Linked DNA regions of Homo sapiens: all the other regions are linked to region 2. The links come from fine-mapping of genetic effects on gene expression. A gene starts in region 2. Each other region holds a variant in brackets. All regions are shown on one strand. Distances are between the middles of the regions. Region 1 overlaps NFAM1 (NFAT activating protein with ITAM motif 1). Region 2 holds the start of NFAM1 (NFAT activating protein with ITAM motif 1). Region 3 overlaps NFAM1 (NFAT activating protein with ITAM motif 1).

The links.
Region 1: its variant is fine-mapped to the expression of NFAM1 in whole blood (TOPMed, PIP above 0.99).
Region 3: its variant is fine-mapped to the expression of NFAM1 in whole blood (TOPMed, PIP above 0.99).

The regions. Positions count from the first base shown.
Region 1 is chr22:42,376,166-42,386,750 of GRCh38, reverse strand. NFAM1 (NFAT activating protein with ITAM motif 1) reads left to right here. Exons shown (of 6, transcript NM_145912.8): 6 at 1,531-6,344. The coding sequence ends at 1,590. Among named protein-coding and RNA genes, the nearest start is that of LINC01315, 12 kb to the right of the region's middle. The variant T/C (reference allele first, on the strand shown) is at 5,136.
Region 2 is chr22:42,426,824-42,437,408 of GRCh38, reverse strand. NFAM1 (NFAT activating protein with ITAM motif 1) reads left to right here and starts at 5,006. Exons shown (of 6, transcript NM_145912.8): 1 at 5,006-5,172. The coding sequence starts at 5,052. RefSeq lists an enhancer at 1-47.
Region 3 is chr22:42,395,004-42,405,588 of GRCh38, reverse strand. NFAM1 (NFAT activating protein with ITAM motif 1) reads left to right here. Exons shown (of 6, transcript NM_145912.8): 4 at 7,633-7,731. Among named protein-coding and RNA genes, the nearest start is that of LINC01315, 31 kb to the right of the region's middle. RefSeq lists a silencer at 8,472-8,766. The variant C/T (reference allele first, on the strand shown) is at 6,350.

The DNA of each region.
Region 1 (10,585 bases), 51 kb after region 2:
TTGTGTGCAGATTGAGCAACCTAACAGTACCCACCTCATAGATGTTCAGTGAGGGTAGAATGTACTGAGAGAGCTGCCTGGGACCCAGCTGTGCCCATGCACTATGAGCCACTGTAACTATCACTGGGCACAGTGTCCACATGGTCAGTCAGACAGGGGTGTTAGGCTTCCAGCTGCCCCCAGGTTGGTGTTGGCTAAAGTCTGGAGCTAGAGTGTGAGCTGGTAGAAGCTGGGCTGGCCTGGTCAGGGTTCTGTGATTGTCATGATAGGGCCTCAGGCATATTACCCAATCATACTTTCTCTCTTTTTTTTTGTTTTTGTTTTGTGTGTGTGTGTGTGTGTGTGTGTGTGTGTTTGTTTGTTTTTGTTTTTGTTTTGAGACAGAGTCTTGCTCCATCACCCAGGCCAGAGTGCAGTGGCGCGATCTCAGCTCACTGCAACCTCCACTTCTCAGGTTCAAGCAATTCTCCTGCCTCAGCCTCCCGAGTAGCTGGGATTACAGGCGCCCGCCCCTGTGCCCAGCTAATTTTTTGTGTTTTTAGTACAGACAGGTTTTCACCATGTTGGCCAGGCTGGTCTCGAACTCCTGACCTCATGATTCACCCACCTCAGCCTCCCAAAGTGCTGGGATTAAAGGTGTGAGGCACCGCGCCCGGCCCATACTTTCTCTCTTAAACCTGTTTGCTCATCTGTAAAGTGGATGAGCAGTGTTTTCCTGCAATACCAACTGCCTCTGAATTCAAATGTGTTCCAAGCTGAATAACATCTGCACCAGAGCTTCCAGCACCGTCAAGCGTGAGGCGTTGTTCAGCCAGAACAGGAGCCCACAGGCCTCTTGGAACATCTGTCAGGGAGTGCGGGCGCCTGGCACTTGGCCTTCTCTGGCTCGGGCTGGCACTATTTGTTAAATCGCCTGTTCTCAAAGCCCTTTCTATACTCAGCCCTCAACTAGACCCTGAGTGAAAGCAGGGACATCTCCGGCAGTGCCCACCCTGTGCCAGGCCCTGGGGTGCTGGACAGGAGAACTAGGCATGTCCCTACCCTCTGGGAGCCATAGTCTGCAGGAATAGGTCGCTGACCCCATGGACACACAGAGGCATTTGTAGCCCTGTTGTGAGGGGTGTTCTTCTGGGAGGGACCAGCCAGGGTGGGGAGGGAGGGAGGGGGTCCCTGGGACCCTATGATGAGCCCGCAGGCAGAGTGAGTAGGGGGCAGTCATGGAACAGGTGTGTCTGTGGGAGGAGGCGCATCCCACACATAGGGCAGAAGGCAGAGGGCAGAGCTGTGGGGGAAGCTCTGAGGCTGGAAGGGCAGGCCCATGTGGCTGGAGGGCAATGGGCAGGGGTGGGGGCAGCATGGTGGGGGAAGAGGCTGGGGAGGTGGGCTTGGAGACAGAGGGCAGGCCCCCCATCAAAGCTACACAGGAAGTGATCTGTTGCCCTCTGGCTAAAACTAAATTAGTGCAAGTTCATTCTTAATGGTCATTCTCTCTCTTTCTCTCCTTCCCTCCCTTTCTTCTTTTCTATCCAGGAGAGACCGCATAGATTCGAAGATGATGGCGAACTTAACCTGGTCTATGAAAATCTCTAGGATGGGCTCCACCGCTCATAGAGCTTGCCCTGGGTCAGAGGACCGGGGCAGCCCCTGCCACCAAAGGACTTGATCTGAGTTGGGAGTAAGGCCCCCAGGGACACCCCATCATTTCACCCTCACATTCAAGGCCCTTCCTGTCTTGGCCGGCCCCACTGCCCCCCCATTCTATGCCCCAACCACCAAGGCTTTCCCATCTTGGGGCCTTTGCCCAGGCTGTTCCTTCTGCCAGGCAGGCCCTTCCTCCCTTGGCCCAACCAGCAAAGCGCCCCTCAGTCTTCAAGGGCTTTCCTGGATGCCACCCTTGCCCAGAGCCCTGCTCACTGCCTCATGCTGACAGAGCAGCATGCTCTCTTGGCACCAGCCTGCACCTCAGCCAGTAGGGCAGCCTCTGAGCTGAGGGAGGACCCTGCAGGGGCGCCTAGCAGTGCTGTGTGGGGAGCCGAGGTATGGAGGAGCTGGGGAGCAGCTATGCAAATCCCTACCTACCCAGCTGGGCCAGAGGCACGAGGCAGCCAGGCAGGGTGGGAGCAGGGGCTGGCGTGGGAGGTCTGGGGGACAGACAAGGATGATGGACCCCTCAGAGGCAAGACTAGGATCAGGGACAGATCTGGAGGCCCAGGACATGGCTGAGAGGTGGTCAGCAGGCTGGGGGCATGGAGCAGAGAGGGCTTGGGTACAAGCTGGAGAGGAAGGAGATTCTGGCATGTTGGGGTGAGGGCAGAGGGACAGATGAGGGGAGGAGGGTGCTGGCTAAACAGGAACTGAATGAATGGCCTGAAGCTCCCTCTCCCAAGGGTTCCCACTCCCATTGGCCTGGCCCTGTACGTGCACTCTGTCATCTCCTTGGTCACCCTCTGCTCCAGGCCTTCTCCACCACAGGACCTCAGCTGTCCCTCCTTCTACCCAAGGTGGAGTCCCCCAAAGTCCCTTCTGTCTGGCCTATCCTGTGCCCACCACCTGTGGCTTCATCCAGCCCTCCTCCTCTATCTTTATCTGCCATAGGCCGCAGCCCTGGCCCCCTGTGGATTGAGGTCCCAAGTGGTCCAGCTGTGGGGTTTGGTGCTGGGACCCTCAATGGCAGCCGGAAGGTCCCTCTGAGGCAGAAGCTCAAGCCCCATGGGGACAGTGGCTCCCCAGTGCCTGGCCCTGAGCCATTTCTGCTGTTTCAGGTGCCCACATCACCCTCATTTCCTCCTCGCAGTAGCCCTGCACCGTGGCCAGAAACCCATCCACAGGCAGGCAGTGGCTGGGGTCCGGGTGCCCCGGGCTGTTGGGCTCTGCTTCCTCCCTCTGCTCCCCCATGTCTCCCTGAGTTCTCCCACCTTTGCTCATTTGTAAAATGGGCAGGTCAATCTTCCCACCCCACCGTGTGGGCTGCCCCAACCCCAAATGTGCCCAGGGAGGGGGGGGAACCCAAGGCACAGGCCCCGCCCCTGCCCCCAAGCAGCACTGGGCTACTGGCTCACAGAAGCACCTTTGGTTCTGCAGGTCATGCCCCTCCCTGCAGGGAAGGGAAAGCTGGTGGTAGAGGCTGGGCACAGACTGACGTCCAGAAGAAGTCCCTTGGCCCTGCTAGGGTGGCACCAGACTTCTCTGGTCCCACAGGACAGCCAGTGGCCTCCCAACTTGGTTCTGGGCCCCCGCCTGCAAGCACACATGGCAAGGAGGGCTTTAGCAGGCTCACATAACCGAGTGGCAAGGCCCCTGCTCCCAGAGGCTGGATTTGAATGAACTCCGGGCCTGTTTGGGGAGGTGAAGCTGCCAGGTGTGCACAGGGGCCTCCCAGGCTCCTGGCTCCACCAGCCAAGGAGGTGGGGGCAAGGGTCAGGGCAATGGGGGACAATGCCGCTCAGGGTGCAGTGAGCTCCCCTGGGAAAACCGAAGCCAGCAAGACCAGGAGAGGGCCACCTCACTGGGCCTGCCTCCCCCACCTCCTGGGCCTCTCTGACCTCAGCTCCTAGACCCTGGACCCTTGGCTGGGACTCAGCATTTTCCAGTCTTTTTCAGGGGTAGACAGGGGAGCCTGGGTTAAACTTTACCACTGTGCCCTGGCCCAGGCATCACCAACACGGCCTCCCTGCAGCTGCCCTGCCACCGACAGACCCCGATTAAACCCACACCTGGCCTTGGCCTCCCCTGCTCTATACCTTGCATGGTTTTTGCCTCACTTGGAATAAAATTCCAACTCCTCCCTGTGGCGTAGGAGGTTCTTGGGGGCTGACCCATCACCCCTCTGGTGGACAGAGACATTGCCAGCGTGGTGGTCGTCTGTGCTTGGTTCAGGGCAAGGCTGGGAGGCAGTGGGTGCTGAGGTCTTCAGTGAGCAAGGAGAGAGGCAGGGAGGAGGAGGAGGAGGAGGAGAGCACAGCATGAAAGGACGGGACCCTAAAGGGCTTTGGCCCAAGGGAGGGTGGGGCAAGAATGTTCTGAGACTTCTGTGGGCAGCAAAGAGGACTGAGCACCTGTTCTCCAGCCCCCAGGACTGAGAGCCTGCAGAGACAAGCTGGCACAGGGCGAGGGGTGGCAGGGAACTTCAGGGTGGGAGGTGCATGGGGCAGGCGGGAGGAGGAAGAACAGAGAGGGGACAGAGAGGGTATGAATGGGAGCTCCTGGGGTGCAGGCTTGCTTTCCACTATGAATGGGTGGAGGAGGGAAGAGAAGAAAATTGCTTTTGAGACCCACCCAGGCTGGGTGGCCTCAGGGCCTCCCTTGAATCCCTGCTCCACCTCCCACAGCCTTGTGGACTTGGGCAAGTCACTGGCCACCTGAGCCTCAGTTTGCAGTGACAGTCAAGACAGCTCAGGCCAGGCGTAGTGGCTTATGCCTGTAATCCCAGCATGTTGGGAGGCCGAGGCGGGTGGATCACTTGAGGCCAGGAGTTTGAGACCAGCCTGGCCAACGTGGTGAAACCCCGTCTCTACTAAAAATACAAAAATTAGCCTGGTGTGGTGGCACGCACCTGTAGTCCCAGCTACTCGAGAGGCTAAGGCAGGAGAATCTCTTGAACCTGGGAGACAGAGGTTGCAGTGAGCCGAAGTGGCACCACTGCACACCAGCCTGGGCTACAGAGCACGCTCTGTCCAAATAAACAAACAAACAAACACTACTCAGTGTCTCAGAAAGGACAGAAGGGGACTCCCTGGCTCAGGCAGAAGCTCAGTGGGTGTGCATTTCCTTCAAGACTCGTCCTTCAGAAGGAATAGGCTTCTGGGGCAGTACAGAGGAGTCTAAGTGAGAGGCAGGCCTCCCTGGGAGCTGGGCCCAGGCTCTCTGCAGCCATGCCTTTAAGGAGTGCCTACGGGGTAGCACGATCAGATGGACAGGCCAGGGCTGCCCAGAGCTGGGGGTGGGAGCAAGGTAAGCAGAGAGGTGAGGGAAGGAGGGTGCTGGCTTAGCAGGAGCTGAATGAATGGGCCTGGAGGGGAAAAGCTAAGGGGGATGGGGTGGCTTGAGTGGAGTAGGTGAGGCCTAGGTGAAGGGGAGCTGTGGACCTTCCAGGACGGACGGATGTGAGCAGTCCTGAGTGGGGACTGGAGTTAGGG[T/C]GGGGAAGGGAAGCCCCAGGCAGCCCCTGCAGGCCCCTGCCCCTGGGCCCTACCGCAGCAGGGCAGCCCTGTCTCTGGGTCTCAGCTGATGCTTCCCTCTGCCCACTGGCCCCTGACCTGGTGGGATTTCCCACCATCTCTCCCGGCCCAGCCTGCCCTGCCCTCCTAGGTCTTCCCAACCTCCCCTCTGCAGAAACATCTCAGCCACGTCTGGCACCCCCAGGCATCCCTGCCTGCCTCTAGGAAGTTGACCCCTTCAATGGGTTTCAGCCTCCAACCCCACCCCCGCTTGACTCCTGCTCTGTCAGCACTTGCTTGAGAAAATCATCCTGGGAAACCAGCTTCTGGGAGCAGGGGCCTTGCCACTCGGTTCTGCGAGCCTGCTGAAGCCCTCCTTGCCACGTGTGCTTGCAGGCGGGGGCCCAGAACTAAGCTAGGAGGCCACTGGCTGTCCTGTGGGACCAGGGAAGTCTGGTGCCACCCTAGCAGAGGGCCCATGGACTTCTTCTGGAGGTCAGTCTGTGCCCAGCCTCTACCACCAGTCCAGAACTTGCAGTGGGTGCGGTAAACGGTGGCCCCTCCTCAGCAAACATTTCCAGGGGATTCTGGCAGCAGAGTTTCCATGGGAACATGTGCTGGTTCTGCGCTGAACCCGGTGTGGCTGGGGTTCCCTTCACAGCCAATATTGCAGGAACTGAGCCTGGTGGCCTCGGCCAGGGTAGGCAGTGCTCTTTGGCCACCCAGTGTCACAAACCTGAACTCAAGTTACAGGCAAAACCTGCTTTTCCTTTTTCTTTCTCTCTCTCTCTCTTTTTTTTTTTGTTAAAGCACATTCTAATGTAAAGTCCATGCTCCATTCTAAAGATGCCTCTGGGATTTCAGGGATGGATTTTTATGTAGTTCAATAGTTTTCTTGGCAGACAGCTTATGCAGGAGAGGTGGGCCGTTGGCTCAGTCCAGCCAGGCTGAGTGGCGTCACTCCATTCCTTGCAATGCCAGGGGATGTCATTTGTCCACCTGAGGGGGCTTCCCCAGTCTCCCTTCCCTGACCTGTGGTCAGAATGATGGCCTCAGCCTTGACTGAGCGCGGGTCAGGCCAGACTCTCTGAACTTGGTGTTGGCGTGTGTTTTGTGTGTGTCTGGAGGTGACATATGTGGGTGACAGAAGCATATGTTACAGTGAAACATTAAAACTACAGCAAAGTGAAACTCCTCTGATGCACCTGCCACCTCCCAGCCTCCATACCCGTCCCCTCCCCAGTAGTAACCAATCGGGTCATTTGGGAGTGTTTTCTTCGTCGCTGCTTTTATGGCATCTAGGTGTCTACCTGTGAACATGTAAAATGTGGAGCGCCGTGCGGGCTTCCGAACAGCCGCGATGCATTCATTTTGTAGGTGTTGTTTGCACTTGCTTTGTTGATGCAGCCCCACGTGGTGGGATCTGCCGGAGACAGCACACAGGAGCTGCCAGACTCCAATTACAGCAAAGGATCCTGCAGGACAGATGGATCCTAATTTAATCAGGCCCCCTATCGAAGGCCTTTTCAGTTGTTTATGATTTTTCAACCTCACATAAGGGGCTGCAGGGAACATCCTTGTACACACACACATCTGCAAAACTTTCCCTATGGGAAATGAGGAGGGATTCCTGGGACCCAGTGCATAGAAGTTCACTGTTCTAACAGTCACCACCAAATCGCCAGGCCCCGAGGTTGGACTGGTTTCTATTCCTCGGACTCTTTATCTAGAATATTTCATTTAATCCTGAAAATAGGTCTGTGATGGTGGGCAGGGGTGATCTCCCCATTTTATCGAAGCAGAAGCTACCACTCAGAACAGCTGACTGGCTCCAGGTCACACAGCCCAGGAGGAGCAACGCTGGGCTGCCTCGGCGTGTGTGCAGTCCTGCTGTCCCCAAGGGCATGTGTGCAGTCCTGCTGTCCCCAAGGCCAGGTAGGGGAGGTGATGGGGGAGGCAGAAAGAGCCATGGAGGGATGTGGTGTCCCCAGGAGTAGGGAAGCCCACAGAAGAACAGGTTTCCTTCAGAGATGGGCTGGCAGCCTCACATTCCTCTTATCCAATTTCTCAGAAGTGTGTGTGTGTGTGTGTGTGTGTGTGTGTGTGTGTGAAGTTGGGGGGGTCCTCCTGCCTCCCGGTATTCTATCTCTTTGGGGAAATGGAGGCAGATCCATAGAGCCCCAGGGGTTGGGCCTCCCCAGCAGCCCACGCCCACTGTGAGGCCTGGATCCTGGCAGCCTGTATGCTCTGATCCCAAGTCTACCCTGGAAATTCCCAGGCACAGCATGCCTGGAGGTGTGAGCCGCCTCTTAGAAGCTTTATAATCCCGGATAATGCTGCTGTAATTGGCATTGTTTTTCCATTACAATCCTTTCATTACCTGAAAACTGACTTTGCAAATGGCTATATCTGGAGTGGGTTTTATTTTACCACTTTGAGGACCTTGAGGGGCCGAGGAGTGGGGGCATTTTCTCTGTCTCTCCCTTGACTGCCCCATCCCCATCCCCCAGTGAGTTCCACAGGCCCAAGTGGGCCAGATCCTGGCCTTGGCTCAGGACATAGCCCTGTACCTTGCTGCCCGCCATGGGCTGATCCAGGGATGTCTCTTCTCCCCAGATGCCCCTTCTGTCCCCCTGCCATCAAGTCCACCCATAAGAGCCTCCCTCCAACCCCTCCTCCTCCCAGCCATTCCCAGTCCAAACAAGTCTCACCTGATCTTTCTATAATACATATCTGACCACATGATTCCTCTCTCAAAAGCCTGCCATACCTTATGGTAATGGTCAATTCATTCCAACAAGGGGGCCACCATCATTCAATGGGGAACAGTCTTTTCAACAATTGGTGCTGGGAGAGCCAAACCTCTACATGACCCCTACCTCACACCCTATACCAAAACTCACAGTGGTTTCCACTGTCCATAGGATCGGGGCTCAACCCCTTAGTCTCACATTCAGGGCTCTTACCACTCCTACCACTCCTTCACTTTTTTTTTTCTTTTCTTCTTTCTTTCTTTCTTTTTTTTTTTTTGAGATGGAGTCTCTCTGTGAGGCCCAGGCTGGAGTGCAGTGGTGTGATCTGGGCACACTGCAATCTCCACCTCCTGGGTTCAAGCAATTCTTCTGCCCCAGCCTCCCGAGTAGCTGGGACTACAGGCACGTGCCACCAGGCCCAGCTAATTTTTTTTGTATTTTTAGTGGAGATGGGGTTTCACCATATTGGCCAGGCTGGTCTCAAACTCCTGACTTCAAGAAATCCACCTACCTCGGCCTCCCAAAATGCTGGGATTACAGGTGTGAGCCACTATGCTTGGCTTTTTTTTTTTTTTTTTTTTTTTTTTTTTTTTGAGACAGGGTTTCCCTCCTATCACCCAGGCTGGAGTGCTGTGGTGCAATCTTGGCTCACTGCAACCTCTGTCTCCCAGGTTCAAGCAATTCTCCTGCCTCAGCTTCCCAAGTAGCTGGGATCACAGATGAGTGCCACCACGCCTGGCTAATTTTTTGTATTTTTAGTAGAGACAGGGTTTCACCACGTTGGCCAGGATGGTCTCAAACTCCTGACCTCAAGTGATCCGCCTGCCTCAGCCTCCCAAATTGCTGGGATTACAGGTGTGAGCCACCACACCTGGCCATCCTTCATTCTTTTAACAACATTTGTCCCGCTCCAACTATGTGTCAAGCCCAGTGCTGTGGCTGGAATAAGAAATGGACAGTCCTGTCTTCATGGAGTCCACCAGCTCATTTCTGATTGGCTCCTACTGGCCCAAAGTCACCCCAGCTCCATTCATGCTTCCATCTATGGCTGCTGTTCCCCAAGATGCTGAGCTCCCCACCTCTGAGTCTGGGCTCCTACCATTCTCCCTGCCCTGAGGACCTGCACCCTATTCTTTGCCTGAGGAATTCCTGCTCAAATGCTACCTCCAGCTGGGCACAGTGGCTCACGCCTACAATCCCACCACTTTGGGAGGCCAAGGCAGGCAGATCACCTCACGTCAGGAGTCGGAGACCAGCCTAGCCAACATGGCAAAACCCCATCTCTACTAAAAATACAAAAATTAGCCGGGTGTGGTGGCACATACCACAGATATCAGCCACAGAGTAAAACTCCATCTCAAAAAAAAAAAAAAATGCTACCTCCACTGTGAAGTCTTCCTTAAAGCCCCCTCCCACACCAAGCAGTTTACTGAATCCTCTCATTTCTTTGACCTCTTCAAACTGAATCAGTTCACACACATCCATCTCCCCCCAGAATTCCCGTGTTTCCCAAGCATGGCAAACACCTCATTTGTCTCTCTTTGTCTGTGCCTGACTCACAGTAGGGGCTTAGGAGCTGTTTGTTCAAAAAATAAAGGAGTCTTTTCCTTTGCTGTTGATTCAACACCTGTTCTTAGTGAAAAAGGGATAATTTTTTTTTTTATTTCCAGGAAGTGATCTTTAATTAGTATATGACCCATTTTACATATGTGAAAATTGAGGCAGACTGTTGCTGCACCCACAACACCAGGAGAAGCAAGGCAATAAGAAGTGCAGGCTCTGGAAGGCCGGCAGCCTCCGCCTAATGGGGAGGGCGGGGAGGCTCTGTGCTGAGCTGTTGGAGGCGAGGCCAGGCACAGGGGAAAGGCCGACATCCCCCTCCCCCACCTCCTTTCAATTCCTGGCTGCCAAGGCTGTCAAGAGGCTCTGAGGACACGTGCCTGCGTCAGGGGCCATGAGCCCTGTTAGGGTGGTTCTGCTAATTGATCCCAGAAGCCCTTGTGACTGCCAGGGGATGCCTCAGCGGACTCAGCAATGTCCTGACCGCTACCTCTCGCCTCACCAGATGGCCTCCCTCCTGCCTCAGCTGCCTCTAGGCCAGGCCACATGTCCCTGATCATTCAGGGCCTGAGACTCCCCCAAGTAGCCAGCAGAACAGAGCCCGGCCAGGGGTGGTGGCGGGGGTGTGTGGGGAGCACTGGAGAAGCTCCTTTTTTTCTGTGTCTCTCTGGCTGATTGGATGGTTTTCCAAAAAGAAAAATTTTAATGTGTTTTCGGTTTGGTTTTTTTTTTTTTTTTTTTTTTTTGAGACAGGGTCTCACTCTGTCATCCAGGCTGGAGTGCAGTGGTGCGATCACAGCTCACTGCAGCCTCAACCTCTGTGCTCCAGCGGTCCTCTACCTCAGCCTCCGGAGTAGCTGGCACTACAGGTGCGCACCATCACACCTGGCTAATTTTTTGTATTTTTCATAGAGACCGGGTTTTGCCGTGTTGCCCAGGCTGGTCTCAAACTCCTGAGCTCAAGCGATCCTGCCACCTTGGCCTCCCAAATGCTGGGATTACCGGCATAAGCCATTGCTGCTTAGCCAGCACTCAGCCTCAAATGCCCCCACAACTTCCTCCAGCAGCCCCACAATCTCCTGCCCCTTATGGGTGGGGAACCCTGGCATGTCATGTGAC
Region 2 (10,585 bases):
CACTTTGGGAGACCGAGGCGGGCAGATCACTTGAGGCCAGGAGTTCGAGACCAGCCTGGCCAACATGGTAAAACCCCGTCTCTACTAAAAAATACAAACATAGCCGGGTGTGGTGGTGGGTGCCTTTAATCCCAGCTGCTTGGGAGGCTGAGACAGGAGAATCACTTGAACCTGGGAGGAGGAGGTTGCAGTGAGCCAAGATCGCACCACTGCACTCCAGCCTGGGTGACGGAGCGAGACTCCATCTCAGAAAAAAAAAAAAAAAAAGACAAAAAGAAAAAATCATGCCACCTTTGTTTTTTGTTTCTTCCAGATCTTGAAGATTCCTTTTGGTGTGGCGGGGTTGGGGAGTTGGCACTAGCTCCTTGCTGCCTCCCAGAAACTGAGCATAGCAGGGGGACCATGGTATGTGTCCAGTAGAAAAGCCCGGGTCCCCTCTGTGACCTCAAGCAGGTGAGTCACTGTTTTTCTCCCTCACTAAATATGTCAGCTGAGGCGTATAATATCTGCCCTGATTAAAGGACCAGGTGAATTGCAGGAGAGCGCAGTGGTTAAAGCCAGGTCCCGGGAGCTGGAGCCCTTGTTCCACTGCGTCTTCGCTGTGTGGCCTTGGGCAAGTGGCTTGTGTTCTCTGAACTCCAGTTTCCTCATCTGCGAAGCAGGAGCAGTCATAACACCTCCCATACAAGGTTTCTATGAGGGCTGAAGTACAAGAAAAGCCTTTAGAACTGTGTCTGGCATCAAACAAATGCTTAAGAGCCAAAAATACAAGCAGCTGGAACTGAGAGGGGATTCTGGAGACAAGCCAGGCCAGGCTTCCAGCCCGGGCAGCCTGCGGGCAGATGGCCTCCAGGTGGGTCTGCCTGCCTCTGGTGGGGTCAGCACCACCCAGCTGCAGGGCCACTGCGAGGCACAAGACGGCCCCAGAGGTAAACCCGGCTGCTCCTAGGATGGAGGCTGCCCTTTTTGATAGTGAGGGTGTTTGAGAGAGAGGGTGGATCGGCCCCTGAGTACCCTGGAACCCTTTTTGCCTCAGTGAAGCCAGCTCAGAGGGTCATTCTGAGGGGTCCCTCCTGCTGGTCGGCTCAGCTCCTCTTGGTGCTGGAGTCTTTGGGGAGGAAGGAAGTGATTTTCGCAGCCGCAGCGGGGAGCAGAGGGATCTCCTTCCCACGGCACTTCTGCTTCCTGTGCAGAAAGGAACCATGAAGAGCTCAGGACCTCACTGTGTCCCGGCTGGAGGCCTCTCAGCTGCCACTTGCTGGCTGGGGCATTTGAAAATCCTGGATTGAGGCCGGGTGCGGTGGCTCACGCCTGTAGTCCCAGCACTTCGGGAGGCCAAGGCGGGCAGATCACCTGAGGTCAGGAGTTCGAGACCAGCCTGGCCAACATGGTAAAACCCTATCTCTACTAAAAATACAAAAATTAGCCAGGTGTGGTGGCAGGCGCCTGTAATCCCAACTACTCGGAAGGCTGAGGCGGGAGAATCACTTGAACCCGCAAGGCAGAGATTTCAGTGAGCTGAGATCATGCCACTGCACTCCAGCCTAGTGGAGTCTTTTTTGAGCCTGTCTCAAAAAAAAAAAAAAAAAAAAAGAAGAAGAAAAGGAAATCTTGGAGGTGGTCGTGGGTAGGGGATCTGTTTTTCTCCCTGGACAGGGAGCGCCTTGAGGGCAAAACCATGACTTATGTTTTGTCTGCCCAATGCCTGGCACGCAGTAGGCACATAATAAGTGTTTGTGGAACTAAACTGAAAACAGAGACCAGCTGGGCAAAGTGGCTCACACCTATAATCGCAGCACTTTGGGAGGCTGAGGTGGGCGGATCACCTGAGGTTGGGAGTTCGAGACCAGCCTGACCAACATGAAGAAATGCCATCTCTACTAAAAATACAAAATTAGCCGGGCGTGGTGGCACATGCCTGTAATCCCAGCTACTCGGGAGGCTGAGGCAGGAGAATCACTTGAACCCGGGAGGCAGAGTTTACGGTGAGCCGAGATCGCGCCATTGCACTCCAGCCTGGGCAACAAGAGAAAAATTCTGTCTCAAAAAAAAAAAAAAAAGAAAGAAAAGAAAAAGAAAACAGAGGCCAGTAATTGTGGTCTCATTTGGAAAGCCTTAGTCTTGGTGTCGAGGAGGCCCCTGGGGACTGCAGGGGACACCTGGGCTCCCCCATTTCCCCACCCAGCTTCCACCTCCTTCAGGGCTGCCACTCAGAAATTACTTTAACCTCCCTGTTCCTCAGTTTCCTCATCTGTACAATGGAGGTGATTAGAGTGCCTGCCCCATAGGGCTGCAGTGAGGATTAAACTGGCAAGGAGAGCAGGTCCCCTGGAGCAGTGTCAGGCGCTTGGAAGCTTCCCGGAACTGCTCTATTATTGCTTCACTCTGCTGAGGTTGCCGTGCCCCTAGGCTTCCCAGGGAGGCTAGGCTCTTTCACTTCTACAGCCTCCGTGAGGCCAGGGCCCAGGGCAGGGCAGGTGTTCAGTATACTGTGAGGCATAGATGCACGGATAAACGGGGAATGGACGGAGGTCTGGGCAAAAGCCAGTGGCTGAGACGTGTGGTCCCCAGGGACCTCACCTGCAAATTCAGCTGCCAAGGCCTAGCTCGAAGGCTGTGCCACTGAAGCTGCCCCTGGGACACCCACAGAGCCTCCTCATTCCTCTGCTCCGCCTTCAGCCTTTGGGGCCTTTACTGTTTATTCACAGCTCTGGCTGAGGGCACAGGAGAGGAAGCACATGAGAGGTGCTAGAAAGTTTTGGTAGAAATGAGGCTCCTGGATGCGCTGCGGTTTTATTTCTATCCCCCTGGCTCCCGAGGAGGATCAGGGCCAGACACGAGGCCCCGACAGCGCAGCCAGGGCTGCTGGGCTCCTTGCCAAGGTGCGTCCCTGCCTCTCCCCAGGAGGCTGCGTGGCTGCAGAGCGTCTCAGAAACTGGGCAATGAGCTGGGACCCTCAGCTGCTTCTTGTCCAGTCATGTCTGCGCTCCACAGCCCAGGGCCTGCCTGGGGAGTATGCACGCCTCCTCCCACCCTGCCTCCCAGAGGCTACCCCTTCCCTTGAGGCCTCTTGTGCACCAGCGTGGTGTTGGGCACCTGCCTTCATATCAAGCCTGGAGGAAGGCTTCTCCCTGCCTTATGCTCACCCATCCGTCCATTCCTGCACCCCCTGGGCCAGGCTCAAGAAGGAGAGGGGAGGAAGACAGGCAGCTCAGGCAGGCAAGCGTGGAAACCAGGTGTGCAGCAGGCTAGACCCAGACTCAGAGGCGGCAGAACTCCCGGGAGTCCGAGGTACAGAGTTGGGGTGTGGGGGGCACCGTGACAGGCTGAGAGGTAGGGTCAGTGAGCTGGCACAGGGGCAGGAGCGGAGGCGGCACCAGGGCTGGAAGAGCAGGCTCCCTTGTTCCGAGGCAGTTTGGCATTCAGCTGCCTCCCAGTGCCAAGTCGTAATGAGACTTGTAGAGGCACAGACCGATGCTTTTCCAATGCTCCCCGTGTACCCTGAGGCATTGACACGAGGTCTATCACCATGGCATCAAGGTGCTTAGACAACCTGCTACTCCCAGGAGCCAGGAATAGCGTGAAGCAGCGGGTCTGCATCTCACTGTGACATATGTGAGCATGTATCACTGTGATGGATCAACAGTCAATAACACTGGGGTCCCCGCCTGCCCCCTGCGCGGTAGGAAACTTCTCCTGTTCATATGTCTTCCTCCCCTGGTGGGCGGCCCCTGCTCTTGCCAGCCTCCCAGTGCTCGTGGCATTGGTGGAAACGTCTTTAGGCTTTCACTGTTCATGTTTGGAGCAGCCCAGGGAAAAGCATGTGTGCAAAGAACTGAAATGGATCTCATGATGCCGTCACCGGGGGCTGCAGCTGGACACACCTGAGCAGGCAGTAGCAGGGTGGGAGAAGGCTCGGACATCATACCACTGGCAGTTCAAATGCCCGCCCCACAGACCTGCCCTGATCCTAGGCATGTTGTTTTGCCTCCTGGGGCCGAGGTCTTCTCTTTTGTACAACTGGGATCATCACATTTATCTGGTGAGTGAAGGGACACCTGCAGAGAAGGGAGGTAAGCGCTCAGCATGCGCTGAAACTCAGCCACCTTCCCGCCTGCGTCTTCCATGTACCAGGTGCCTCCAGCTCCACCAGCCATCACCACACCCCAGCCCCTTTCCTCTGCCACTCCAGACACGCAGGCAGATGTGTGGGTGCCAAGGGTGAGGGGCTCCCAGTCTGCTGGGGAAGGGGGTCCCGGCAGCAAACAATTCCTGTCCCCGGCTGATGCTGCTAGAAGTGAGAGCAGGGGCTGTGACCTGCAGCCAATGGGGAAGCAGTTCGAGGGTCTCACAGTTGGGAGGCCGAGTGAGCTAAGCTTTAGGGCAGCCACAGGGAGGAGCTGACGTTAGAGATGGACCAGAGAGGAGGCGTCTCCTGGGCCTCTGCAGGGGACCCACAGAGGTTCTCGCTGGGTGAATGATGGGCAGCCTGCCTTTCACCTGCCCTGGGTGTTTGGCCCTCTCTAGGGCTGGGAACATGAGGCTCCTGCCCTTCACCCCAGCCTCCCTACCACCCCTCACCAAAAAACCTACCTTTGGTAAACACATTATTAAGGGATTCTCAGAATATTTTAGAGAAGTTTGTGTGAACATGCTTGTGGTCGTTTTAAAAGTGTTTCAGAAGTGAGAGGCTAAACCAAGGCCCGAAGTCACTCATGGAAATCCCATGATCCCTCTGCACAGTTACCAGTGTCTCCTGGACGGGGCCCCTGCTGGAAAGGGGCCGAGACAGGGTGAAGCCCACCAGGGGTTGGAGTGGGGAGGCTTGGGTCCCGTCTCCAGCTCTTCTTCTGGTTGTGTGGCCTGGACCAGTCTCAGTGCCAGGTTCCTCATCTGGCGGCCACCCTGCTGGGCTGTTCCAGCTTTGCTTCTGAGCGGAAGGTCAGGGGCTGCCAGGGAGGAGCTTCGTGGGGAAAGCAAAGGGGAAGCTGTCAGCGCCGGCCGTCCCCTCCTGTGAACTAAAGAGTCGCCGCAGACAAGCAGGCCCCCAGATGGAGAACCAGCCTGTGAGGTGGCGGGCCCTGCCAGGCCTCCCACGCCCTCCTGGGCTCCCCGCAGCCCCCTGGCTCCTCCTTGGCGTGCTGCTGCTGCCCGGGACCCTGCGACTGGCAGGTAGTGTCTGTCTTCCTCCTTCTCTCTACTCTCTCGCTCCAGAACATCAGAGCGGCTTTCATCCCGCCCGGCGCAGCTAATTCCCAGGGACCTGTCTCTGGGGATTTGCTGGTTGTCGTTTGAACGCTGCAGACTTCACAGGGGAAGCCTTCTGGGACCGAGAAGATGTTTAGCTAATGCCTTGCCAAGGTGGCTTTTGAAGGGGAGGGGGACAGCGCTCTCTCCCTCGCTGCTGTGACAGCTTTGCCCCAGCAGTCTGGCCTCCTGGCCCTTAAACAAGGAGGGTGGGCGCTGTGTGGCTGGGGCCAGGGGCGGGGCAGGGGGGAGGGACAGCTCCCCATCCGAGGAACCTCACGTGGCTGCTGCGGGGGACACTGCGTTGAACCTGGCAAGTGGTGGGGCTACCCTCTGGGTTGTTGCTGGCATTGGCCAGGGAGAGCGGGGAGAGGGGGGAGGGGGGGATACCAGGGCCAGCCACAGGGCTCTGCGCCCAGAGGCACAAAACTGTCAGTCACCAGAAAGGGTCTCACCTCCCAGTTCCTGAAACACAACCAGAGGCCAAGTGTTTTAGGATGCAAGTGTGTCTTTCCACGCCAGCGGCGCTCCTTTCCTGGTTCCAGGCTTTCTTGGAAGCTGGGTGGCCGGGATCCGAGCCAAGCTGTGGGGTAGGTAGCCTCAGGGCCAGTTCATCAGGCCAGGGACGGCCCAGGAGGGTCCCATTCCAGGGCTGCCAGCACGAGGGCTCAGTGAATTCTGCCAGATTCTCTCTGCCCCTCCTTGGCCGGGCAGCAGCCAACCCTCCCTCTGGCCAAAGGGGTGGCCTCCACTGTGGAGACAGGGTGCCTTCCTTTCTATTCTCTTAGTTTATGGGGCTTTCAAGAGCTGCCCCCACCCTGTCCTGCTGCACCCCCTCTCATGACCACAAATTAGGCTTTATGGAGCCCTTAGCAGGGCACGTACTGGCCACCCTCACAGCACCCCTTGGGGCTCCTATTGTCCTCACCTGCACCATTTTAAGGACAGGGAAAAGGAGGCCCAGGGAAGCCAGTTCGTTTGCTCAAGACCTAGCCGGTAAGTAGAGGCCAGCCTCAGCCCCAGGCCAGCCTCAGCCCCAAGCTGGGCCCCTCGGCCAGTAGGCTCAGAGGATCCTCTTACTTGTAAAGAATGTTCTTCACCGGAAACTTACCCTGGGGAGGCAAAGGCTGACCTGTGTGTACCTCCCCAGGCTGCAGCCCAGAGCCCTAGGACACCATCTCCTTTAATCCTGTGCACGCCTCGCCCCACACCCCAGACAGTTGGTGCAAACACGGCCAGACCCCGGAAATGCAGCCTGTTAGTGTCAATGTGTCTCAACTACAGTCATTTTTAATTTAATTTCCCCCCAATTCCCATCCTTTCCCTTTGTGTGGTTCCTCCTCCCCAAAAGACACCCAGCACACCCTGGTAACCGAGCAGTAAGAGGTTTTATGGGGTGCTACTGGGGAAAAGCTCTTTTGTAACAGTCTCAACTATAACAAAACATTCCCAGTGCCACCCCCTCCCACCCGGTATTGCAACAAACATTACATAAAAGAGAAACTGTTCTTTCACAAGAGGTGAAAACACCCTTACGGTGTCCTAGAGTCCCTTGGAGCAGCAGACAAACCCCCACCCATGATTTTTTTTTTTTTTTTTTTTTTTGAGAGTTTCACTCTTGTCACTCAGGCTGAAGTGCAATGGCGCCATCTTGGTTCACGGCAACCTCTGCCTCCTGGGTTCAAGTGATTCTCCTGCCTCAGCCTCACGAGTAGCTGGCACTACAGGTGCCCACCACCATGCCCAGCTAATTTTTGTATTTTTAGTAGAGACAGAGTTTTGCCATGTTGGCCAGGCTGGTCTTGAACTCCTGACCGCAGGTGATCTGCCCGCCTCAGCCTCCCAAAGTGCTGGGATTACAGGCGTGAGCCACTGTGCCCGTCCTGTTTTTATTTTTTTGAGACAGGGTCTCGCTCCGTCCACCAGGCTGGAGTGCAGTGGTGCAATCTCAGCTCACTACAACCTCTGCCTCCCTCACTCAAATGATCCTCCCACCTCAGCCTCCCGAATAACTGGAACCACAGCGTGTGCCACCACACCCAGCTATTTTTTAAATTTTTTCGTAGAGATAGAGACTCACAGTGTTGCCCAGGCTGGTCTCGAACTCCTGACCTCAGGTGATCCACCCGCCTTGGCCTCCCAAAGTGCTGGGATTACAGGCGTGAGCCACTGTGCCCAACCCCCAACCCGCTCTTTGTCCTACCCCTGTGCATCCCCCTTCATCTATCTGTCACTCCATGTCACACCCCTGCCTTCTCGTCTCAGAGCTTTGAGGGTTTGCTGGAAGGAATCTTGCCCCTCCCACATCTTCCAAACCTCCCCTGACCGTAACCATCAGCCTTAACCATCAGCCTGGTGCAACCAGCTCTGCCACCTGTCAGTACCAACCCAGCTTGCATCCCTCAGCTGTGTCCACAGGGGTGTCACTGAAGGCCAGCGTCCCTGATTCTGCATCGTATCCCTGAACTTGCGAGAGGATGCTGGCTTAGGAGTACAGGCCAGGGGCATTCATCTTCAGTTTGATTTTTTATTTATTTATTTATTTTGAGACGGAGTCTCGCTCTGTTGCCCAGGCTGGAGTGCAGTGGCACCATCTCGGCTTACTGCAACCTCCGCCTCCCAGGTTCAAGCGATTCTCCTGCCTCAGCCTCCTGAGTAGCTGGGATTGCAGGCACCCACCACCATGCCTGGCTAATTTCTGTATTTTTAGTAGAGTCAGGTTTTCACCGTGTTGGCCAGGCTGGTCTCGAACTCCTGACCTCAGGTGATCCCCCCACCTTGGCCTCCCAAAGTGCTGGGATTACAGGCGTGAGCCACCGCACCCGGCCCAGTTTGAATTTGAGCTCTGCTACTTGCCCAGGCACCCTGGGCAGATTACTTCTATCGCTATGCCTCAATTGTCTCCTCTGTTAAATGGATGTGATAACACTGCCTGCCTAAACACATCCTGAGGACTGAGTGCCCAGTATGTCATTAGTCCTCAGTGAGTGTCAGCCACCTGCCAGCCTCGCCAGAGCCATGGAAACTTGAGGTGCAGTTGGTGAGCCCACGGCCTCCAGCTCATCCTGGGTACCTGCTCCTGCTCCCAGCCATCCTCCTCCTCCCACTTGAGCCGGGACTTGGGCCTGTCCTCTGGCTTCTTGACCCCTCTGCAAAGCCTGCTTTTCTCAAAGGCAGCCACTGGTGGTCTCCCCAAGACAGGAATTGCTGGGGGCTTGGCTTTTCCAGGAGCAGCTGCAACTCAGCTTCCATGGGCCTCAGTCCTCCCCAAGGACTTTGGGGCTGGACAGACCTGAGTTCCAGGCCTGCCTTCTTCTGGTGACAGCTGTGTGACCTCAGGCAATTACTTAACCTCTCTGCACCTTAGTGTCCTCTGCAAATGTCAGTCCCCTCTCTGTGGCCTTTCCAGAACTCTGGGCTGTATTTATTTCTCACATATCCATTGAAAAGGACCGGTTCTAGGCACCAGAGGGACCCAGACGTGAACAAGCCATAGGCCCCACTCTCAGCCTGGTGGGACCGTGAGCCTTGGCCGGAGTTACCAGACAAGTTTGTTCTGGATCCAGGTGGTGTGCGCCTGTAATCCCAGCTACTCAGGAGGCTGAGGCAGGAGAATTGCTTGAACCTGGGAGGCAGAGGCTGCACTGAGCTGAGATCGTGCCACTGAACTCCAGCCTGGGTGACAGAGCAGGACTCTGTCTCAAAAAAGTAATAATAATAAAAAAAGATGTTCAGGAGCCCCTGCCTGCTCCCGGCTGAGACCTCCTGCCTCCCTTCCCGCCGCTCCGGACCTCTGTCAGGAGTAGCCTCTGTTTTTCATCTTTGTCTAAATCCCAATAAAGGACTTTCGAGGCACAGGCAGAGGTGGGCGGGGAGAGGCAGGGGAGTGCTGGAAAGGCTGCCCGCGGAGTGGGGACAGAGCGGGAGGTGGCTGAGGGAATGAGGGCTGAGAGCCCAAAAGGCAGGGCCAGGAGGGCCGGGAGAGGCTCAGCTTGACGGCAGGGGAAGTCTGACACAGGAGTGGGATGCAGATTGTGGTTGGGTGGATCACAAATGCCCCTCAGGTAGGGGTCCGGGCACACTCCCAGCGGGTCCTGTCTCACTGCTGTCTCCTCTGTCATGGTGAACTATCGCACAAAAACCGCAGTGCTGCGTGGTAAGCACTAGAAAACAAAGTCCTGTGTGACTCTCACCAGGTCAAGAATGAGAACATCCCAGTGCCTCAGAGCCCCTTCTACTCCCCTCGCCCCACAGACACTGCCCCGCTCCGTGCCCCACCAAAGGTACCCCCATCCCAGCTTGTGGGGGGATCACTTACTGGCATTTCTTTGTAGTTTTATCATTAGTACACATCCCGAAACCATATGGACTAGCTTTGCCTGTTTGTGAACTTTGTGTAATTGAAGGATACTGTGTGTATTCTCCGGTGACCCGCTTCTTTCACTGAGCATTATGTTTTTTAAGATAGATCCAGTCCACGATATGGCTGAAGTTCGTTTTGTTGCTATAGATAGAGCAAGAGTTGAAACCACGGCCGGTGGGCTAAACCCAGCCCACTGCCTCTTGTATGGCTTGTGAGTTATGAATGGTTTTTATATTTTTAAGTGGTTGAAAAAATCAAAAGGTACTGTGCGGACTCATGTGGCTTCTAATCCTTGACTCCCAGCACGGGACCAGCACCCAGCAGATGCTCAGGAAATGGTGACAATCAAGGATGAATTAAGCTCTGAGCAGGGTGGAGACGCGATGCCACAGGAGGGGCGCCTGGGGGAGGAGATGGAAGGGCTGGGTAGTCGTCCTCTGCCCTTCCTCTGCCCTCCCTGAGCCCTGGCTCCTCTCCAGCGTTGGTAGGGTAATGAGACCCCCTGTGTAGTGAATGGGAGGGAGGACACAGGCATCCTGGGGAAATGTGGACCCGGAGGCAGGATCTGACCCTCTGCTTGCTCCTTGTGGATCTAAGCAAGGCCATACCCTAGTGGGGACGTGGGCAACAGGACCCAGATGGGGCTGAAACCAGAGAAAGGGACGGGGTGAGCCTGGTGAGAGGGAGGGGAGGGGTATGGACATGAGATTGGCAAGTGGGGCGCCTGGGCTCCTGGTAAGGTCTGAGCAGGCTGGATTTGGGTCCTGGGAGCCTTTGGCCAAGTCTCTGGAGTACGCTGAACCTCCACGAGCCCCCCCGCCTGGGTGCTCAGCATCCTCCCAGACAGCAATAGGAAGGTACATCCAGTACCATGATGGCCTCAGGGCGTGGCACCTGGGACCCCTCAGGGAGGGTCTGTGAGGCTTTGGCCCTAGGGACAGGGCTCGAGGGCACAGTGAGGGAGGGGACTCAGTG
Region 3 (10,585 bases), 32 kb after region 2:
TATGCACCTGCCATGTGCCCGGCCTGGGCCTTTCTTGCACGCCCCCGACTCTCGCCCTCAATATATGCCCTCCCTCCCTGCTTCGGCTTTTCCCATGATGATAGCAAGTAGGGTATCTCTCGATTTGTTCACTACCGAGCAGTCCCCAGGCACTCGAAATGAGGCCAGGGGAGGAGCTGGGGCGTGGACACAGAAACTGGGCTTCAGGCACAGGTGACAAGGGACTCCCCCCGCCTGCGGACCCCCACCCAGGCTTACAGGAGTGACCCACACAAGTGCCCTCTGTGTACACGAAACACAGTAGGCAAGGAACAGAACGGGGCCAGGCGAGATCTTAACCTTGAGCCCCCCATTTGCTGAGCAACGTCAGCTCCTGCCCTACAAAGATGGGACCGGACCGTAGAAACTGGATCACAGTATTAGTAAAGGAGGGGACAAAGCTCAGAGCCCTGGGCTTGAGTTCTGGTCCCTGCTCCCTCCCCTCCAGGATGGCCTCAGTGACTCCTGCCTTCCTCTTCCTCCTCTCACCACCCTGCCTGTGCTTCCAGGAATGTCTGCAAAGTGTCTCGTGTGTGCCATCACTAGGCTAAGTGCCAACAGGGTGAAAGCAAGCCCTCTTGTCAGGTTTGGATCCTCTCTGAGCCTCAGTTTCCTCCTCTGGAAATGGGATAAGGAGGGTAGACCCTGCCCACTAAGTGAACATGGAAGGAGAGCACTTTTTTTTTTTTTTTTTTTTGAGATGGAGTTTTACTCTTTGCCTAGGCTGGAGTACAATGGTGCGACCTTGACTCACTGCACCTCCGCCTCTCAGATTCAAGTGATTCTCCTGCCTCAGCCTCCCAAGTAGCTGGGATTACAGACGTGCGATACCACGCCTGGCTAATTTTGTATTTTTAGTAGAGACTGGGTTTCACCATGTTGGCCAGGCTGGTCTCAAACTCCTGACATCAGGAGATCTGCAGGAGAGCACTTCTGAAGCACCAGTTGGGTGCCTGACACACAGCAGAAGCTTTCTGCTGCCCACACACCCTCTGTACCTGGGGAGAACGGCTGATGTGAGAGCCTGGGCTGGAAGGGAAAGAGAACCCGGAGGCCAGAGCAGCTGCTGCGTTTGCATTGCTAAAGCAGCCCTGGGAGCCCCTGGTTCGCTGTGGATGCCCCTGATGGCAGCGGCAGGATGGGGTAAGGAGAGAGTCCAGGAGAAAGAGGCTCCCTCCAGGCACAGAGGACCCGGGAGCACCTGCAGTGGTGGATAAATGAATTGAAGCTGGAAACTACCAACCAGAAGTGGCAGAGGGTGGACCCGAACCGCGGTTGGCAGCTTTGGGGACAGTGAGGACAAAGAGCAGAGTGTGCGACTCCACTGGGGCAAGTCTGGAAGAATGGCATTGCCTCCCGGGGCAATGCCTGCACCTGACTTCTGCAAAGGCCAGCAGGGAGGGCACGGAGCTCACACCCCCGGGAAGATGGGAGCTGGAGGGTGGTAAGAACTGGTGATGCATGAAGTCTGCCCGGAGGGGCTGGGGCAGGAGGGATGGGGGTAGAGCCCAGGAATGGATGACCCACAGGTGGCACAGTCAGCCCTGCCCGCAGGCCCTTCAACAGCAGAGGCTTCCCAGGCCCTCCTTGTTCTCTGTATTTCGGCACCTGGGATCCCTCCCAGAGATCTCCTTCTTTGCTTTCTGGATCCAGCTCCCATGTACCCAGCTCAGAGAGGCCCTCTCTGACACCATGGCTTTCTTCCCTGACACCTCTTTTGCCTCTGCCCTCGTCATCTGTAGGTCCCCTGAGCTTACTCCATCTCTTCGTCAAGGCCAGCTGTGTGAGGCCGGGTGCCTCTCGGCCTGTTCCCTGCCCAAGCCCCAGCCTCTAGCACAGGTCCCCTGACATAGTAGGCCCTCAATAAACATTTGCTGAAGGGCTTACCATTTATAGGGCCCTTTCACACCTGTCATTAAATTCATTCATTCAGGCTGGGTACAGTGGCTCACGCCTATAATCCCAGCACTTTGGGAGGCTCAGGTTGGCTGATCACCTGAGGTCGGGAGTTCAAGACCAGCCTGGCCAACATGGCAAACCCCCACCTGTACTAAAAATACAAATTAGCCGAGAGGCGGAGGTTGCAATGAGCCGAGATTGCACCACTGCACTCCAGCCTGGGCGACAGAGCTGAGCACCTACTATGTGTCAGGCCCTGTACAGAGGCTGGGAACACAGCAAGCTAAACTCTTAGCTGGGGAGATCAGCTGTTATGCTGTCATGACCTGTTCAGGAAGAAAGGAAGTAGAAATCAGCAGGGGGCTTAAAAGCACAGAGTTGGGCCTTCGTTCAGTTCCAGCTCTGCCACTTACCAACCTCTGCGAGCTTGAGCTGGGTGCTCCAGGCTTCGGTTTCCCCAGTGGGGATGCCAAACAGAGGAGCTGTGTCATGGGGTTGTAGAAGGCACAGAGGGGGCCGGGCGTGGTGGCTCACGACTATAATCCCAACACTTTGGGAGTCCGAGGTGGGTGGTCACAAGGTCAGGAGTTCAAGATCAGCCTGGCCAAGATGGTGAAACCCTGTCTCTACTAAAAATACAAAAAAAAAATTAGCCGGGCATGGTGGTAGGCTCCTGTAATCCCAGTTACTCGGGAGGCTGAGGCAGAGAATTGCTTAAACCTGGGAGGCGGAGGATGCAGTGAGCCTGGATTGCGCTACTGCACTCCAGCCTGGGTGACAGAGCAAAACTCCATCTCAAAAAAAAAAAAAAAAAAAAAAGAAGGCACAGAGGGACCGGTGTGGGTCTGAGGCGCTTTGAGTACCAGGAGAGGTCTCTCTCTTGAGAAGGCAGCAATCGCCATGATTCCTGCCATGAGAGTAGGTTTGGGGGCTCCTGCCTGACTTGAGGGGTCAAAGTGGTGTTCCCAGAGCAGGCGCTCCCTGCGGCTGGCCCGTCCTCATCCTCATCCTCTCATGGCATTGGGCACAGCAGGCCTCCCGCCTCACAGCACACTCCGCCTCTTGGTACCAGGACAACATGCCCTCCTTGTTCTGTCCCACCCCATAGGCAGCTTTGCTGGGTCACCCCCCTCTTGGTGACCTCTAAATTCTGGCACATCCCGGGCCCCTTCCTCCGAGCCCTTCCGCGCTCTGTGTGTGCTCCTGCAGCAAAGTTTCTGCTCTGCGGGTGGCATTCCCTGTCCACAGATGCTGCTGCTCAGACCCCTCCCCAAGCTCCAGACCATGGTCCACAGCCCCACGTGGGGGCCTGAGGGTGCCGCCACCTCATGCGTCCAGAGCAGTGCTCAGTCCCCGAGTCCTCTGCGTCCCAGCACACGTGCTCCAGATGCTCAGGCCCAAGCCTTGGAGTTGTGCTCGGCTCTTCTCTCTCCCCACATCCATCCCTCAGCAAGCCCTGCACTCAGTCTGTCCCGGATCCAGCCCCTTCCCCGGGGCTTCCTAGGCGTCCCAGGCTGGGCTCCATCACCCTCTCCTGGAATATAGGTCTCTGCTGCCACACCCTGGCTTCTGTCACAACCTGGCGTCTGTCTTTATGCTGTCTGTCCTGCCATAGCATAGCCCCTGTAGGCGGGGGACTTAGTGTCCCCAGCACCTGGGGGAGCCTGGCACGCAGTGCATGCTTGTGGAAGGAATGACAGGATAAATGCATGCGAGGACCTGGAAGATAAGGCAGAAGTGGCCAGGATGTGAGGTGGGCAAGGCCACATTATTGCTCCCATTTTACAGAGCAGGAAGCTGAGGCCCAACAGGCTTCCTGAGCTGCTGATGGCAGCACCCCTGGTGTGCACAGCTGGATCTCAGCCCAGGCCTGGTGACTCCCTGTCCCACCACCATCTACTAGGGAGGGGAGACTTGGACCACAGAGAGCTGGGCGTGTTGGGAGAAGCCACACTCGTGATTCATCTGAAAATCACAGTTGAAAGGCAAATGTTGGCCCCGAGGACAGAGCGCTCAGTGGGCAGGGATGGGCAGGGAGCAAAGCAGCCCCACCCCCATAATGTAATGTGAGTTTTCAAGAAGGCTCCCTCCCTCCTCCACGGGACCCCTTGCCCCGGCCCAGCCTCCCCAGCACCCCCAGGAGGCCTCTCTCCTGGAGATCCTGCCTCCTCCCCTTGCCAGCCCCAACCTACAGTCCACCCCGCATCTGTGGCAGCAGAGGGAGGTTTATACAATGCAACTGCAGCCACTTCCCTGGTGGCCCCCACTGCCCTTCGGGTAGACACCATGGCATTTGGCCTTTCGTGGCCCCACCCGTGCCAGCCTGTGGCTCATCTCCTCCTTTCTGTCTAACTGTCCATTCTTCTGTGCATCCATGACACTCCTGCCCCCGAGCTGTTCGCAATGTCTAAGATACCTTCTTAGACTGGGAGAGCTTTGAAGTTCCTCCCGTGTCTTCAGAAGACAGCGCAAGATGGCCCTGAGACGTCTGCTTCAGTCCCCTGCAGACTTGGGGCCCCTTCTTGGGATCCCCAGTGGCACTCACTTCTCTGGCAACCCCATCAGTCTCACTGACAGAGCCTCGAGGCCAGGCGTGGGTCTTGTTCACCACAGGGTCTTCCATGCCCAGCCCAGGCCCAGCGCGTAGGAGGGCCAGGGAGGGACACCAAGAGCTAACTGAGCTCCAGGGACCTTGCTTTCCAGCCCCGGCAGGTCCAAAGAGCTGAGCCCAGGTCAGCCTCGCGGGAGACCCACTGCCCATGAGCTCACATCCTCAGCCCTGGTGGTGTCCAGGTCGGCCAGCTCAGCGAAGAGACAGACACTAGGTCCCCAGCTGCCTTGACAAGAGGAGGCACTGAGGTGCACTGGGGCAGACCACTACCTCTGACTGTGACGGTGCCCTCAAGAAGCAGGTGGTGCAGGGGAGGCAGCCCTGGATTTGAGGACACACATCTGGGTTTGATCCAAGGACAGCCTTTTACCAGCTGGACAAGCCTCAGCTTCCCCCTCCTGTTTTTGTTTTGTTTTGTTTTTGAGATAGAGTCTCACTCTTTTTGCCCAGGCTGGAGTGCAATGGTGCAATCTCAGCTCACTGCAACCTCCACCTCCCAGGTTCAAGCAATTCTCTGCCTCAGCCTCCCGAGTAGCTGGGACTACAGGTGCTCACCACCACACATGGCTAATTTTTGTATTTTTAGTAGAGATGGGGTTTCACTATGTTGGCCAGGCTGGTCTCGAACTCCCGACCTCAAGTGATCCACCCACCTTGGCTTCCCAAAGTGCTAGTATTACAGACATGAACCACTGCACCTGGCCCCCTGTCTGTTAAACGGGCAATTCCATGCCCACCTCCTCTGGCTGTTATGAGAATTAAATGAAAATAAGGACAAGTCCCAGCAGACTTCGTAAACTGTCAAGTGCTACACAGACGCCAGCACTGCTCTGTGTCTGTGAGGCTCACACGTTCTAACTAAGCAGAGGAGTCAAAACTCCAGCTCCTGTCTCGTCAATATCTTGGTGAAACACAGACCTGGATTCAAATCTTGCCTCTGCCACTTCCTGGCTGCGTGGCCTCGGCAAGTCACCTGCCTTCTCTGAGCCTTCACTCCCTCATGTACAGAACAGAGAGGATGGAAAGATTCACCTGCGGTTTGTGGAGGGCGCGTGAGAGAAGGCAGGTCAGGTGTTGAGAACCCTACCTGGCTCCATGCTCTGAGCCATTATGTGCTGTGACTGGGGGTGGCGCCGGCTTCTGCCTGCGAGTTAAGTAGCTCTCAGCAGCTAATCCCGCAGTAAATGGGCTGGGGTTTGGCAGGAGGCCAGGGTTTTTAATTAGCTTCTGCCCTGAGATGAGGCAGTTGTGGCTCCACTGTCAGCAGTGGCCGTGTGGTGCCTGCAATGAGGGGGGATGTCCAGGCCACCTCCCTCTGCCTCCAGAGGGCTGCCTGTACCGCCTCGTGACTCCCCAGCCTTCACCTTCCCAGCAGGCCCGGCCCAGCCTCCACTGTGACCAGCGGGAGCTTTCTCCAGCACAGCTCTGACCCTGGCGCTCCCACTTCGAGCCCTCAGATGTTTCCTATGCTCTTCATGCAGCCAGCACGGCCACGCCACGCCTGCCCCTCCCAGGCAGGCTCCTCTCTCGGGCCACACACTGACCTTCTCTCTCTCTCTCTTTTTTTCTTTCTTTCTTTTTTTTTTTTTTTTTGAGATGGGATCTCGCTCTGTCTCCCAGGCTGGAGTGCAATGGTGTGATCTCGATTTACTGCAACCTCCGCCCCCTGGGTTCAAGCGATTCTCCTGCCTCACCCTCCCGAGTAGCTGGGATTACAGGCGCCCACAACCATGCCCAGCTAGTTTTTATATTTTTAGTAGAGATGGGGTGTTGCCATGTTGGCCAGGCTGGTCTCAAACT[C/T]CTGATCTCAGGTGATCCACCCGACTCGGCCTCCGAGTCCCAAAGTGCTGGGATTACAGGCATGAGCCACCGTGCCTGGCCTATGCTGACCTTCTCCACGTGCCTCCAGACCTCCAGGCCTTGGCACCTGCTGTTCCCTCTACCTGAGGCTCCCTCCTCCCTCTTTTGCTAAATGAACTTCTTGCCCTCAGGATTTCACCTTCAATATCGCTTCTGCCCAGTGGGGCATTGGTTTCCTCCTCATGTGCCAGAGGCTCTGTGCCTGGCAATCAACCCACATACCATGTTTCGGCAAAACCACTGGTTCATCCTCCATCTCTTCACTGGTCCCTAAACTCCAGGAGGGTAGGGACGGTGCCCACCTCCTCACACTGCCTGGCTTGCCAGTGCTATCAAGTGTGTGTTGGTTGAGCAAGGGCCTTCTAAGCAGCACCTCCTAAGCACCAGGCACCTACTCCTTGTGCCCTCATTGTAACTTTGCATCAGTCTCACAAAAGAGGGTTATTGCTGAAGAAACCAAGACCCATGGCCGGGTGCAGTGGCTCACACCTGTAATCCCAGCATTTTGGGACGCCAAGGCGGTGGATCACCTGAGGTCAGGAGTTCGAGACCAGCCTGTCCAACATGGTGACACCTCATCTCTACTAAAAATACAAAATTAGCCGGGCGTGGTGGCACACATGCCCGTAGTCCCAGCTGCTCAGGAGGCTGAGGCGGGAGAATCGCTTGAACCCGGGAGGCAGAGGTTGCAGTAAGCTGAGATTGCACCATTGCACCCCAGCCTGGGCAACAGAGTGAGACTCCATCTCAAATAATAATAATAATAATAATAATAATAATAATAATAATAATAATAAATAAAACCAAGGCCCAGAGGGGAACTGGCTCGCTCGAGGCCAGAGCCAGTGACAGCAGAGGAAGACTGGACACTGGACCTGGCTGGCACCACTAGGGGCCCACCCATGGCTGCTGGCTCGGTCCCTGGGGCCCTGCCCCACTGGCACTGGTCCCAGTAGCTTGGGTCCCTACCAGCCAGGTGCTCTGTCCAGGGACATCACCTCGTGTGGGCCTTTTCCATTTCCTGTGTCTCCAGGTGCAGGAATGGCTTGATGCAGGTCTTGTAGGCATTTGCCATGTTTCCCTGGAGAGGGTGAGTGGGAGGGACTGAGTGATGAATCTCTGTGTGACCTCATGACAATCTGCCATCCTTTCCCCTGGGGGGTCTGTGCGGGGAGGAAGACGAGAGCCACTCATCCCTGGCCCTGACTCCTTTCTCCCTACAGAAGCGGATGCGGGGTCCAGGGAAGGACCCCACCAGGAAGTGCCCAGATCCAAGATCTGCCAGCAGCCCCAAGCAGCATCCTTCAGAATCTGTCTACACAGTGAGTCCCGGGGCCCCCGGCTCCCTCCACCTCTTTCAGGCCTTAGGCAGAGTCTGTCTTGTACCAGGGTCTGTCTGGCTCAGTCTTGTACCAGCTGTGTGGACTCTCCTAGCCTCAAGTTCCTCATCTATAAAATGGGGATAACAATTCTTACCTCATGGAATTTCTCTGAAGCTGAAAAGAGATGACACGTGCAGGGCTCCTGGAAGGCATACGAATGTCAGGTGCCCCCCATGCCCTGTTCCCCTCCTTGGCATGGATCCTCATTCTGGGACAAGGGGTAGTGACGGCACAAGTTGGCGAAGAATGAAGAAAGCTCCTTCATCTGACCAAACAGCTCTTACCACTTCCTCCTGTTTTTATTGTATAAACAACAAAAATCACAAAAAGAGGAAGAGGTCAGGCGCCATCCCACGCCCTTAACACATCAGTGATTTGTAATGATTTGCTCTCTCCCCTCCTGGCACATGCAGATATTATCTTACATGGTCACAATCACAGCGCAGACATGCGTTGGGACCCTGTTTGTTCCACTCTCTGCTGTGTTGTAGGCATTTTCTGAAACAATTTTCCTGGAGATGTGGGTGCATCTCCAGGAAGTGGAAGGTGGGTGCAGCGTAGGGGCCGAGGAGGCCAGGCTGCCCCAGCCTGGCCAGCCAGCCAGCATGCAGCCCTCTGCCCAGCGGCTGGGGCCGGGGAGGGCTGGGAACACTCTTTTTGCTACGTTCCTTTCGGCTCCACGAACAACATATGCTCCAAGTAGAGCAAGGGAAGAAGAAATGCCACCCAGTGCCAGCTGGGGTCCCCATCTCGTGAGATCTGGCACCGCCAGGTGGGCTCCCCACTCCACGCCTGGAAGGCACACAGCCCTTCTGGGGCCCTGCAGGTTCCCAGGTGCACGCTCCCCAGGTGCACGCCCCCCAGGTGCACGCCCCCTGGCTGCGATGGTGCTTGGGTTCTGCTCGTACGTGCTGTCGTTTCTGTTCCCACAACATTGACTCACCCTAATAACGCCACAGAACACCACACAGAGGACGCCCAGGATACAGCCTTGTCTGCTGAGGATGGGGCGGGTGGCAGCGAGGCCAAGGAAATGTCCCTGTGGGGCAGTGCCAACAGTTCCAAGTGGAATGTGATGGTTCTCAAAGGGCTTTCAGCTTCCCCATCCTGGGGAGTTTCTGTCAGCCACGGTTTTGCACGTGGCCGGAGACTTCCTCATACTCTCTCCTGTCTCCCAGCATCTCATAGTGGTATTTTCCCTACCAGGGATTCTGGTGTCAACTGTTAGATGAAAATATTTCTCTCTCTCCCTCTCACTCTCACTTTCCCTCTCCCCCAGCATACACATATGTGAGATATATATATATATATATAAAAGAAGAAAATAACCAGCATCCTAATCCCATCTTCTTCCAGGATAAATACTAAGAACATTGACTAATATATTTTCCAGTATTTTTTCTATAAATATATACAAAGAAACCCATACGCACTCACACATACTTCTTTTTTAATTGGAGCAATACAGCTATTTTTTTCATGAACATCTTTCCACGTGAATAAATATCTTTCTATGAGATTATGTTTAACGGAAGAGCTCTTTTGAGCAGAGCTTCTTTTTGCCTGGGTTTCACAGCCTCTAGGATGCAGGCCGACTTCTCTGGAGTGAGGTGAACAGACCTAACTGCCTGCAGAGTTGCAGGCCAGCTTGGAGAGTAGAGGTCATAGAACTTTGCCAAGCCCTTGACATAAGGGTCTACCAACTGGGATTGGGCCTGGGCGGAGAAGAGTGACAGTCACAACGATGATGGTATCAAGAGCCATTTGTTGTGTACCTACTATGTGCCAGGGATCATGGCAGGACTTTACACCTGTTATATTTTATCAATCCTCTTGATAAGGTTTTAGGGTAAAGGTTTTGTCCCCATTTTCACTTTCTTTACTTTTCTTCTTTTCTTTCTTTTTTTTTTTTTTTTGAGCAGAGTCTCGCTCTGTCGCCCAGGCTGGAGTGCAGTGGCACGATCTTGGCTCACTGCAAGCTCTGCCTCCCAGGTTCATGCCATTCTCTTGCCTCAGCCTCCCAAGTAGCTGGGACTACAGGTGCCCGCCACTGCGCCCGGCTAATTTTTTTGTATTTTTAGTAGAGACGGGGTTTCACCATGTTAGCCAGGATGGTCTCGATCTCCTGACCTCGTGGTCCGCCCACCTCAGCCTCCCAAAGTGCTGGGATTACAGGTGTGAGCCACCGCGCCTGGCCTTCCTTTGGATTTTCTACGAACCCAGTCATGTCATCTATGAATAATGCAAGTTTTACTTTTTCCTTTCCAATCCTCATTATTTTATTTTATTTTTATTATTTATATTTATTATTATTTTTTTTTGAGACAGAGTCTTGCTTTTGTCGCCCAGGCTGGAGTGCAACGGTGCAATCTCAGCTCACTTCAACCTCTGTCTCCCCTGTTCAAGCGATTCTCCTGTCTCAGCCTCCTGAGTAGCTGGGATTACAGGAGACCACCACCATACCTGGCTAATTTTTTTGTATTTTTAGTAGAAATGGGGTTTTGCCATGTTGGCCAGGCTGGTCTCGAACTCCTGACTTCAGGTGATCCACCCGCCTCGGCCTCCTAAAGTGCTGGGATTACAGGCGTGAGCCACCACGCTTGGCCTGTTTTATTTTTTTTTTTGAGACAGGGTCTTTCTCTGTCACTCAGGCTGGAGTGCAGTGGTGTGATCTTGGCTTACTTCAACCTCCACCTCCCGGTCTCCAGCTATCTTCCCACCTCAGCCTCCCGGGTGGCTGGGACTATGAGTGTGAGACACTGCACTTGGCTAATTTTTTAATTTTTTGTAGAGA